Homo sapiens: one gene and its partners. The protein of the gene in region 3 interacts with the protein of the main gene of each other region in a pairwise test. Each region holds a gene or a part of one and is shown on either strand. Other genes may lie near its edges.

What was found.
Region 1: the proteins of SGTB (region 3) and PODXL interact in binary tests that used the Homo sapiens proteins (3 or more experiments, as listed by UniProt).
Region 2: the proteins of SGTB (region 3) and WFDC12 interact in binary tests that used the Homo sapiens proteins (3 or more experiments, as listed by UniProt).

What each region holds. Positions count from the first base shown.
Region 1 is NC_000007.14:131,501,003-131,504,752, forward strand, and holds part of PODXL (podocalyxin isoform 1 precursor), read right to left. Parts: intron 3,507-3,750; coding exon 3,309-3,506; 3' UTR 1-3,308. UniProt on the Homo sapiens protein: Involved in the regulation of both adhesion and cell morphology and cancer progression. Functions as an anti-adhesive molecule that maintains an open filtration pathway between neighboring foot processes in the podocyte by charge repulsion.
Region 2 is NC_000020.11:45,122,839-45,126,588, forward strand, and holds WFDC12 (WAP four-disulfide core domain protein 12 precursor), read right to left. Parts: upstream 1,628-3,750; 5' UTR 1,610-1,627; coding exon 1,531-1,609; intron 1,428-1,530; coding exon 1,269-1,427; intron 1,106-1,268; coding exon 1,008-1,105; 3' UTR 587-1,007; downstream 1-586. UniProt on the Homo sapiens protein: Antibacterial protein. Putative acid-stable proteinase inhibitor.
Region 3 is NC_000005.10:65,673,399-65,677,148, forward strand, and holds part of SGTB (small glutamine-rich tetratricopeptide repeat-containing protein beta), read right to left. Parts: intron 1-3,750. UniProt on the Homo sapiens protein: Co-chaperone that binds directly to HSC70 and HSP70 and regulates their ATPase activity.

The DNA of each region.
Region 1 (3,750 bases), on a different chromosome or scaffold from region 3:
TGACTACAGGGTTGCCTGCCAACCAGAGCATATTGACTCCAACCTTTACTGAAATGGAGCTGTGACTTTGCTGGGGAGGGGGCAGGGTTGCATTTTAAAATTAAAAAAACAAAACAAAACACCTGATCTACAAGACAAATACTTTATCATAAGTTTGTCTTGTTATATTTCATTTTTTGTTTAAAAAAAAAAATCAAGCAAAAACTTGTCATTTCCAGTAAGACATTTACATTCCTGTCCAGAGAAAAAACTTGGCCATCACTCAGCTAACATAATGCTTTTTCAAAGTATGTTCACTTAAAGCAGTGCAGGGTAGGTTAACATGGTCACTGTATTTACATTATCAAAAAAATATGTGTATATGTATCAGTTTGAACTTGTTCTTCAAAGTTTCTCCAGTATATTGTCAAAAAAGATAAAGCTCAAGAAGTGGTTTAAATAAACTTTCTGCTAGCTTTCCTTATCAAGCGGGAAAAAAATCTGGTGCCTAGACTAGATTAAACCCGTATTCTGTCTTACAACGCAAAGAATATTCTGTACCTCCTTCATAAGCTTTGCTGCCTGTCTCCCCACTCTCATGACAGTAGGCTTCCTAGTCATCATACTTGTGGTTTCTGGCCTCCTGTGCAGCTTGGGGAAACCACAGTTTACCACTGAAAGAGCTGATGATAAACTGTCTTTGCTACAACCTGTTTAAGTCATGCTGAGCTTCTAGTGTTCCTCTTACCTCTTCCCAGACCCAATGCTCTCTGAATTATCAGAGAGCATTTAGAACCCAGTAAAGGTGGCAGAAGATGATGACCTTTATAGATGCATGGCTGTTTGGCCTGTTGACATAGGTGTCCTGGTGGCAAGAGCAAGGCAAGGTGTCAGATTCTGAAGCTGTCCTAAGCCTAGACTAACACAGTTTGGACGAATATAAAGCAGTAACCTCTGAATCAGCCCAGAGCCTCTCCGGGTTCTCCTTGGACAGAGCGATGGAGAGTCAGGAGAGTCAGGACCGACCTGGCCAGGCACTCCTGCTCTCTAGTCCTTGCCAGTCATCATCTGTCTCCAAGAGGCCATAGGGTTGCAGCCTTTGATTGATTTGCAGAGGCCTATTTGCTGTCTCCGTCAAAAGCCCTGGCTGGTGAAGTGTGACCCAGGATCAGCAAAGGAGGAATAATCCAGTCTGGCCTCTCCCACGGGACCACAACAGAAAACCTACTGGGTGGAGAGAACCCAGCGCTGGGCAAGAAGGAAGCAAACACCTCACTCAAGCCTAACAAGATTTCCTGTTTTCCCCCAAACAGGCACTGTTCTCCATCCTGCCCACCTCCAAACACTAGAGCATCGGGGCAGATGTTTTTGGAACTTGTTAGCCTCGCATCCCTCTAACTCCTGGGAAACTCGCTGGGGCCCTATGTGAACCCCTGGCCTTCCTTTTCCCCTAGGATATCAGATGGCTACAGACTGTGAGGAAGGAATTAGGCAGATGGTGCAGGACAGATCTTCCCCAGCCCCTCCCCCTACCCTTTTAAAAAGTAAGCCATCCCGAGTGGATAGCCTATTTCATCAGAGCTACTACAGCCGGAGCCTGACTCTTAAGACCCTGGAGGTGTGGCGTTTCACCCGAAAAATGGCAATTTCATTCCCCTAAGCAGTTCTGCCCATTTTCCTACTTGATCCCAGGGAATTTACGCCCAGAACGATGGAGACCATGGCGAAAGTTCAACATTCCACACAGGATTCCCCCTTCTCAATCAGATGAAACCTCACCATGCCCACTGCTTAGGAGCCTTCTACATGGCAGCTAACTGCCGAGCCCATAAAAGTCCTATATTGGGGAATAGACATAGCTTTGTGTTCCCCTGAGATGCCACCAGAAACTGCAAGAGAACCGCAGCAGCCCCACTAGGCTCACAGAGAAGAGGAACAGCAAGGCCTAGCTCCAGGCCAGGACAGTGGGACGTTCCCACAACAGTCTGTCCCCCAGGCTGCCCTTCATGCACCCAGCATGCACTGCGCTTTCCAGGCCCTCTTTTCCTGTGGCACAGGAGAATCAGAGTGAGTGAGATGAGCTAACTGGACGTCTGCCAACTGTCTGAGCTTTTGGCCTTTGGCAGTGGAGGGCTGGGTTAGAAAACAACTATAACAAAACTCTCAGCAACTTGAAATGTCCCTGAGTTTCCTATGATATACAGGGGAAAGCCTGTCCTTCCTGGCTGCTTTAATGGATTGTCTCTGAAGACACATCGCTGATGGGGGGCCCCGGGAAGGCCTCTCCTGCAGCCACTGCTCTTTCATACTGGGTCTCAGGGAATCACTCCCATCAGCTGAGCAGTGAACAACAAAAGGAACACGCTGCTCTCACTAGCTACAGCAGATTTTAGTCCCTGGTGGAAATGGAAGCCCAAAGAAGATCGTGGGTGGCCTCTGCAAGGAGTGCCAGGGGCAATGGGCCAGTGTTCCTGCTGACCCCTCATCAGCTGCCCTGAGATACCAGCCTGGACTCGAGTGTCCCCTTCTCTCCTCACCTGCACGCAGGTCCCCTAAGCAGACCTGGTTCACGCACGGAGACCTGTGTGGGTTAAGCCCCCATCTCACGAAGCAAATGTGAGAAAATCCGAATCCAGAACAAGGGGTTCAAGGTTATGAATAACCTGTGCTAATCCCAGAGGCCCCAGGACAGAGTAAGTGGGAACAAACACTGAGTGTAGGGAGGGGTAAGAACATAGAGGGTGGGAAGATGGGTACACGAGGCTGGGGTAGGAGAAGGAAAACTTGGGAGCTGGACTTTCAGGTCGTCAGATCCCACCGAGCCAGGATGTAGCCCTGCCCTCCTTTCCAGCCCAGCCACCTGCTGGAGTTTCACCCCTGCCCGGGACTGCTCTGGACGGAAGGCACATGTGAACACAGCAGTGTGGCATGGTGCAAATGGAATCTTTGTTCTCATCCTGGCTCTGTCACCAAGTGGCTCTGACCTTGGGCAAGTCACTTACCCTCTTCAGGTCTCGGCAATCTCACTGCAGAATGAAGGGATTCCACTAGTTCATCTATAAAGTCCCTTACGTGGCTTTTTCTTGATCTCCCTCATCATCCAGCAGCACTGAGCTCAGGCACTAGTGGGTTATTTTACAAGAGGAATCTGGACAGAATGTGATTTGTTCAGGTTGAAAAGGGAAAAATTAAGGCCCTGGGGGGATTGGGAGGGGACACCCCTCGGAGTTCACTCTCCCTCCCCAGTCTTTCCCTTCCCCATCCAAACGGCACTTGGGGTGGTTGGTCTGGAGCTCTGTGGTGCTGCTGGAGGCCACCGGCAGACCGGACTAGAGGTGTGTGTCTTCCTCCTCATCCAGGTCGTCCTTGGTCAGGTTGTCCAGAGGGACGATCCAGCTGTCCCCCAGCTCCCCGTTGAGGCTGACCACCTTCTTCTCCTGCATCTCAGAAGAGGTCTCCATCACTTCCAGTGTTGGGTTGTCATGGTAACCATTCTCCACTGTCTGCAGCTCCTCTGTTAGCCGCTGCTAGAGTGGGGAAGGTGACCGGTGAGAAGGGGGTTTCAGAGGGCTCTGAGCTTAATACAGCGCATGTACGTACCCCTCCCACTCAGGAGCCCCACTGTAGCTAAAGCAGGCCCTCATTGCTCGCCTGTGGGGCTGGCTGCTCCTGGTGGTCATTCTGGCTCTCAGCCTGCCCGGAACTAGTTGGGAACAAAGACTTGCCCCTCACCCTCACCCTGGTGGCAGAACCTGTGAAGTTAGTGGAGAT
Region 2 (3,750 bases), on a different chromosome or scaffold from region 3:
TTGAATGATGCTGTGTGTTTTGTGTTGCATCACCTCAGGAGGAACGGAGGTCCGCTTTACCCATTTTTAGCATTGTGGAGACAGATTAATGTGTTTTCGGTGTGTACCTGAATCCTCAAGTTGTAAACTTGTGTTTTCCCTCTTACAAACTGTAAATATACCACAGGGTGATGAAATGGCACCCTGTAAATATTCAGAAGCCATGGATAATCATTGCCAGAATCAATTATTTCATTAGGGTTTGCAAAACCCAGTGGGTTTTAATTTTAATTATATTTCAGGTATAAATTATGCTGACCAAGGTGAACACTTTGAGGAGGCTTCCTGCTTGGGGAAGAGCATATCTTTTAAAAAACATTTATTTATTTATTCTGTAGAAAAGTTTAGTCTATTTATCCAGATCTTTTAAAATGTCATTTAATAAAGTTTTAGGGTTTCCTTTCAGAAAATTTCTGTACATCTCTAGATTTATTTGTAGGTATTTTATATTTTATTCACTTTGATAATGTTGAATAGGATTTTTTTTTTTTACTATTAGGTTGTCTTAGCAGGTTTGGGCTGCTATAACAAATTACCATAGACTGGGTGGATTATAAACAGCAAATATTTATTTCTTACAGTTCTAGAGGCTGGGAAGTCCAAGATCAAGGCACCAGCAGATTCAGCATCTGGTGAGGACCAGTTTCTCTTCTCTGACAGTGCCTTCTAGCTGTGATCACACATTGCAGAAGGGCAAGGCAGCTCTTTGGGGTCTCTTATAAGGGCACTGGTTTCATTCATGAGGGGTCCATTCATGAGCATTAGGGAGGAGCACCAGGTAGAGAGGGAAAGTACCGTCCCTGGGGTCTGGACTTTTTGTGACTCTTCCCTCTTTTTGGGGAAAAGGACTTCAAGCTCAGGTTTTCTTTGGTGGGGTTGGGTATTGCTTCTTCCATATTCCAAGTCTCAGGACCCTCAGGGGCAGGTGCCAAGTGAGAGTGACCCCCAGAGGTAGAAAGGACCCAGCATCATTTCTGAGGACACCTGGTAGAGGAGGAGCCTGGACACTTGGCCTCCCATCCTGGCTCAGGGTATGGCCTTGACACATCTTCATCCTTGTTTCCTCCTTTGGACAATGGAGATGTTCAGACTAGGTGGTCTCTGAGGGCCCTGCCAGCTTTAGCCATCCCTCCCCACACCAGCTAAAGGGACTAATTCCTCCGAACTTTCATGGGTCAGATAGAGGCAGGGAAGGGACAGCCCCAGCCCTGGGAGGCAGGTCTCCTTACCTTCTTCCAGTTCCTTCACAGGAATCACACACTTGAAGCCACAGTGCAGGTAACAACACTTCCTTTCCCCCAGACAGTCCTGGTCTGTGTGACACTGGGGAGGATCGGACTTGAAGCAGCGTACGTTGTCAGCTGGGCAAACCCCTGCTTTCTCTATACCTAGTGGAGGAAGCCACAAGGTGATATGAGAACTCCAGCCCCAGAGGGCCCCTCAGGACCTCTCCCCAGCCCAGCCCCACCCAGCTCCACCATGTCTGCTCACCCTCTTTAACTCCTTCCACAGCCACCAGGGTCACAAGAACGAGAGACACCATGAGGACCAAGAAGCTGCTGGACCCCATGTTGCCAGGCAGGTGCTTGGCTGGGAGCTGGGCTGAGCCTGGCTTTATAGTGTTCCTGCTGGGCATGCCAGTGGGTGGAGCTGAAGGCTCAAAATGGCAAGGGAGGCTGCACTTCCCAGCTCTATTTGGAAATGGCCCCTTCTGAGGAGGGACTTGGGGCTTTCCCTAAGGCTCTGCACTGGAATAGATGAAGAAATCCAAGAGCGACCCTCGTTCTTCACACGAGGAGAAGAAATGGACACGTGATTGACCATTAGGCGCCACCAGGGCCAAACTATCTTATGGAAGGAGGAAAAGAAGCACAGAAAGGGCATGAAATTACTCAAGTTCACACACGAGGCAGTGGCAGGGCCAGACTTCCTCAACTCCACCGTGTTCTCTATCAGTCCCTCTTCATGCCTGATTCACCTGGGACCAAAATCTTCCCTCCTTCCTGTGCTGCCCCGGACTTGTTCTCAGTTCTCACCTCACCCCAAGGAAGAATCTGAATGGCAGTGCTTAAAATGTCTGTCCTGAACATTCACTCTCAGCCTTGCGCTCCAGCACCGTGTGCTCCTGCCCCCCGCCAATCTCATGTGGCCTGGAGGAAAGCAGATTTTGGACCTGTCACCAGCTGTGTGACTTTGAAAGCAGCTTCACCTTTCTAAGCCTCCGTTTCCTCATTCATACAATGAGCATAATAATTATACTGTATCATCTTCATAGGATTTGTTTTCCCTCCTCTGCCCCTGCATCCCCCAAATTCCTGGATTTGGAAGAAGACATGGACGTGTGTGCGTGTGTGTGTGTGTGTGTGTGTGTGTGTGTGTGTGACCAGGCTTTTGGGGTCCTTTCTTTGAATGAGTACTAAAGGGAGGAAAATCCTTCCTGTTGGAAAAGTTGCAGATATAAGCCCAGAAACTCCAGAAATTTGGTCCTGGCCCTGGTGAGAGAGAAATTCTGAGAAGATAAATCTAAGATGCTGATAAAAAGAGATGAGAGATGGACAGGGAGTAATTTAGAGGATATCTAGTCCTTCACTAAACTTTTTCCTGAGATCAGCCCCACTCATACCCAGGGTTATGTTACCACCCAATACATTCACCTTTCTGCCTAAGCTGGTCTGAATTGGATTTCTGTCATTTACTAACAGGACCCCTGAGTAATGCAAAGATTTGGGTTTGGGGTGTTCCACATCCTGAAGTGTGGAAGGGACTGAGTTGGGGTTAAGTGGAGGCAGGGAGGATACCTCCATTCCTGGAAGTGAGCCTACTCCTTATTAGGTGGTGAATCTTTGGTTACAATCTCACCAGTCATATCACTGGACTCAGATCATTTGGATACCAGGGATGGAATCTGGGAAGTTCATAAACAAATACTAGAATGTTGGAATGTATTGGCTATTTCCTCCTCCACCTTTTTATTATGAACTTTTTAAACATACAGAAAAATTGAAATAACAGAACAATGATACTTGTATACCTACAACTGGATTTAACAATTATTAATAGTTTGGGATATTTTAGAATACCTATAGCTACATTTGTTGAAATATTTGAAATGAAATTGAATACATTATGTTCCTATTTCCTAAATACATCAGCATGCAAATTCTAAGAATAAGGATATTCTTCAATATAATCACAAAGCCATTATCATATCTAAGATAATTAATAGTTTCTGCATGTCATCTCATAGCCAGTTCATATTTGTTTCTCCGGTTCTCCCCAAAATGTCATTTGTAATTGACTGTTGATGATACTTCTTTAAAAAAAGTATTGTAAAATAAATCCTACATATGAAAGAATGTAATCAACATTCTATACCTTTTGAAAAAGAATAATAAACACCTATGAACCTATCAATTTAGAATAGGACATTACCATCCCTACTTCAGAGGTAACCACTATCTTGAACTTTCTGTTAATCATCCTCATGTTTTCCTTTAAAGTTTTGCTCTCTTGCTATGGCTTGCTTAGTGATACGTGTTGTTTAATTTCGTGTAAGCGTAATTATGGCCTAAGTATTCTTTTGTATTTTGCATGCTTTGCTCAACACCGTGTTTTTTTAAAAAATTGTGGTAAGAAATATATACTATAAGACATGACCTCTTAACATATTTTTAAGTGCATACTAACAGTATTGTTAATTGTGGGCACAGT
Region 3 (3,750 bases):
GTAAGCGGTGGGCGAGCAAGCATTACTGCCTGAGCTCCACCTCCTGTCAGATCAGCTGCAGCATTAGATTCTCATAGGAGCAAGAACCCTATTGTGAACTGCGCATGTGAAGGACCTAGGTTGAGTGCTCCTCAAGAGAATCTAACGCTCCTCTCCCCATCCTGCCCCTACCCCCTACACCCGGTATGGTCCATGGAAAAACTGTCTTCCATGAAACCAGTCCCTGTTACAAAAAGGTTGGGGACCGCTGTCCTATAGGGCTATTTTTTTTTTTTGAGATGAAGTTTCACTCTGTCACCCAGGCTGGAGTGCAATGGCATGACCTCAGCTCACTGCAACCTCTGCCTCCCGGAGTCAAGTGATTCTCCTGCCTCAGCCACCCAAGTAGCTGGGATTACAGGCATGCACCACCATGCCCAGCTAATTTTTGTATTTTTAGTAGAGACGGGGTTTCGCCAGGTTGGCCAGGCTGGTCTGGAACTCCTGACCTCAAGTGCTCCGCCCATCTTAGCCTCCCAAAGTGCTGGGATTACAGGTGTGAGCCAGCACACCAAGGCCTATAGTGCTTCTTTATCCTGTAGTACTTCCAGTCCTCTTCCCTCAGCTTGCTGATTAAGAGTTGTGGCCCTCCAGGTTGAGGGTTAAATGGAGGGAAAGGTGAAAGGAGCAGCAAAGTTCTTATTTGATGACTGGTATTATCTTACTAGTTTTGCATTGGTGCTTTTTGAGTTTGCAAGGTATTCAAAAACTACTGTGGTTCTCTTATGGGGTACTTTCTCATGTTCTTCAGACACTTCTCCTTTCCCTAGGCCCTGGAGATTTCTTACCTATTCTTTGAAAAGGGTAATTTACCCTCTGGATGGATGCTATGACTTTCCCTTCAGTCTTAGGTTCTTGGCAGTCCTCCAGAGATTCTCTGTGTTGGGATCCTGTCACACTTCCAGGAAAGCCTCTTGAACATATTCAGACACACTCTCTCACAATTGTGTGTGCTCACCTTGGTCCACAGGAAACACCTCTGCTCCACTCTCATCAGTACAGTAACTGCCCAAACCACACAGCTAATTCTGCCACTGGCTATCCAGTTGAACTATCAGGTAGAAAGTCTCTGTACCAGAAAAGCCCTTTCTCAGTGAGGGCTTGAGATGAGAGCAAGCCTCCCTAATTCCTTCATATAGGGAGCCCTAAAACTCTAATAGCTCTCTCCAAAAATCATGTTTTAATTTCCATCAACCTGGCCTTTTTTATGAGTCACAAAACATGTTTTTTATCCCCATCTTTTGCAACTCCTACATGGTGGTCTCACACCTTATTTTGGTACATAGCAGCTTGGAGCCTAAGCCAAATCTGAAACTAAAAGAATTCCATTTTTCACATCTTGTTACAATGCCATAACCTGAGTCCTAGAATGGGTAACCATTCTTAAAAAAAAAAATGAAGTCACAAGATCTACAAAACATGTATTTGCTAGCATGGTAAGAAGGCTGAAATTTGATAAGGGAAAAATAAAAACTACCAGTTGCTAAAAAGACTTATCTCACTGGGAATGAGTCATCTGTGCATTTCAGTTCAACAGAAGATTTAATGGATGCAAGACACATTTTTTGAAGGAAACAAAAGATGAATAAAAACTGATTCCTGCCTTCCAAGGGCATATCATGGATAGAATAATTCTCATCCAAAGTATACAGTCACCCCAGGAGCTTGATATGCCCTGGTAACATCCTAAACCCACTAAATCAAAGTTACCACATATTGGACCAGAGCGTGTATGTTCTCAAAAAGGCCCATACATTATTTTGTTGTTTTGTAAGAATAGAAGACAAACACATGAGATATCTATATCTATATCTATCTATCTATATCAAATAAACTCTAAAGATAGAAAACAAGGCAGACAATGCTGAGGGGCAAGCTAGGGAACCACAATGGCCAAATACTCAAACTGCAGATGTTAGATATCTTCCTAGGACCACTTTTATGTAAGAGAGTAGTTTTTAACCTTTCATATATTGGCAGATTCCTGTGCCAATCTCATGAAAAATATGATGCTCTCCCTGGAAAAATGCACACATACACATGTACACAGATTTTTATATATAATTTTGGAAAAATCCATGAGCTTCCTAAAGTCCATCCATGGCTTTCCCACAGGAGGTACATGGACACGTTAAGAACCCTGCCATTCAGCCAGAGAGAAAGGCCAGGCCACCTACAAAGGGAAGCCCATCAGACTAACAGCAGATCTCTCAGCAGAAACCCTATAAGCCAGAAGAGATTGGGGGCCCATATTCAACATCCTTAAAAGAATTTCCAACCCAGAATTTCATATCTGGTCAAACTAAGCTTCATAAGCAAAGGAGAAATAAGATCCTTTTCAGACAAGCAAATGCCGAGGGAATTCATTACTACCAGACCTGCCTTACAAGAGTTCCTGAAGGAAGCACTAAATATGGAAAGGAAAAATTGTTACCAGCCACTACAAAAACACACTGAAGTATACAGACCAGTGACACTGTGAAGCAACCACATAAGTTTGCAAAATAACCAGCTAGCATCATGATGACAGGATCAAATTTACACATAACAATACTAACCTTAAATGTAAATGGGCTAAATGCCCCAATTAAAAGACACAGAATGGCAAACCAGATAAAAAAACAAGACCCATCAGTGAGCTGTATTCAAGAGACCCACTATACATACAAAGACACACATAGGCTCAAAATACAGGGATGAAGGAAAATTTACCAAGCAAATGGAAAACAGAAAAAAGCAGTGGTCGCAATCCTAGTTTCTGACAAAACAGACTCTAAACCAAAGAAGATCAAAAAAGACAAAGAAGGAAGCAGAGGTTGCAGTGAGCTGAAATTGCGCCACTGTACTCCAGCCTGGGTGACAGAGCAAGACTCTGTCTCAAGAGAAAAAAAAAAGACAAAGAAGGGCATTACATAATGGTAAAGGGTTCAATTCAACAAGAAGAGCTAACTACCTTAAATATATATGCACCCAATACAGGAACACCCAGATTCATAAAGCAAGTACTTCGAGAGCTTCAAAGAGACTAGACTCCCACACAATAATAGTGGGAGACTTTAACACTCTGCTGACAATAGTAGACAGATCATCAAGACAGAAAACTAACAAAGATATTCAAACCTGACCTCAGCTCTGGATCAAGTGGACCTGATATCTACAGAACTCTCCACCCAAAAACAACAGAATATACGTTCTTCTCATCACCACATGGCACTCAATTCACTCAAAACCACACAACTACATGGAAATTGAACAACCTGCTCCTGAATGACTTTTGGGTAAATAATAAAATTAAGGCAGAACTTCTTGAATGAGAAGAATGAACTTCTTTGAATGAGAACAAAGATACAACATACCAGAATCTCAGACACAGCTAAAATTTCATTCTTGTTAAGAAAGAAATTTATAGCACTAAATGCCCAAATCAAAAAGCTAGAAAGATCTCCAGTTGACAACCTAATATCACAAATAAAAGAACTAGAGAAACAAGAGCAAACAAACCCCGAAGCTAGCAGAAGACAAGAAATAACCAAGATCAGAGCTGAACTGAAGGAGATAGAGACACAGAAAACCCTTCAAAAAAAAAAAAAATGAATACAGGAGCTAGTTTTTTGATAAAATTAATAAAATAGACCGCTAGCTATACTAATGAAGAAAAAAGAGAGAAGATTCAAACAAACACAATCAAAAATGATATTACCACTGACCCCA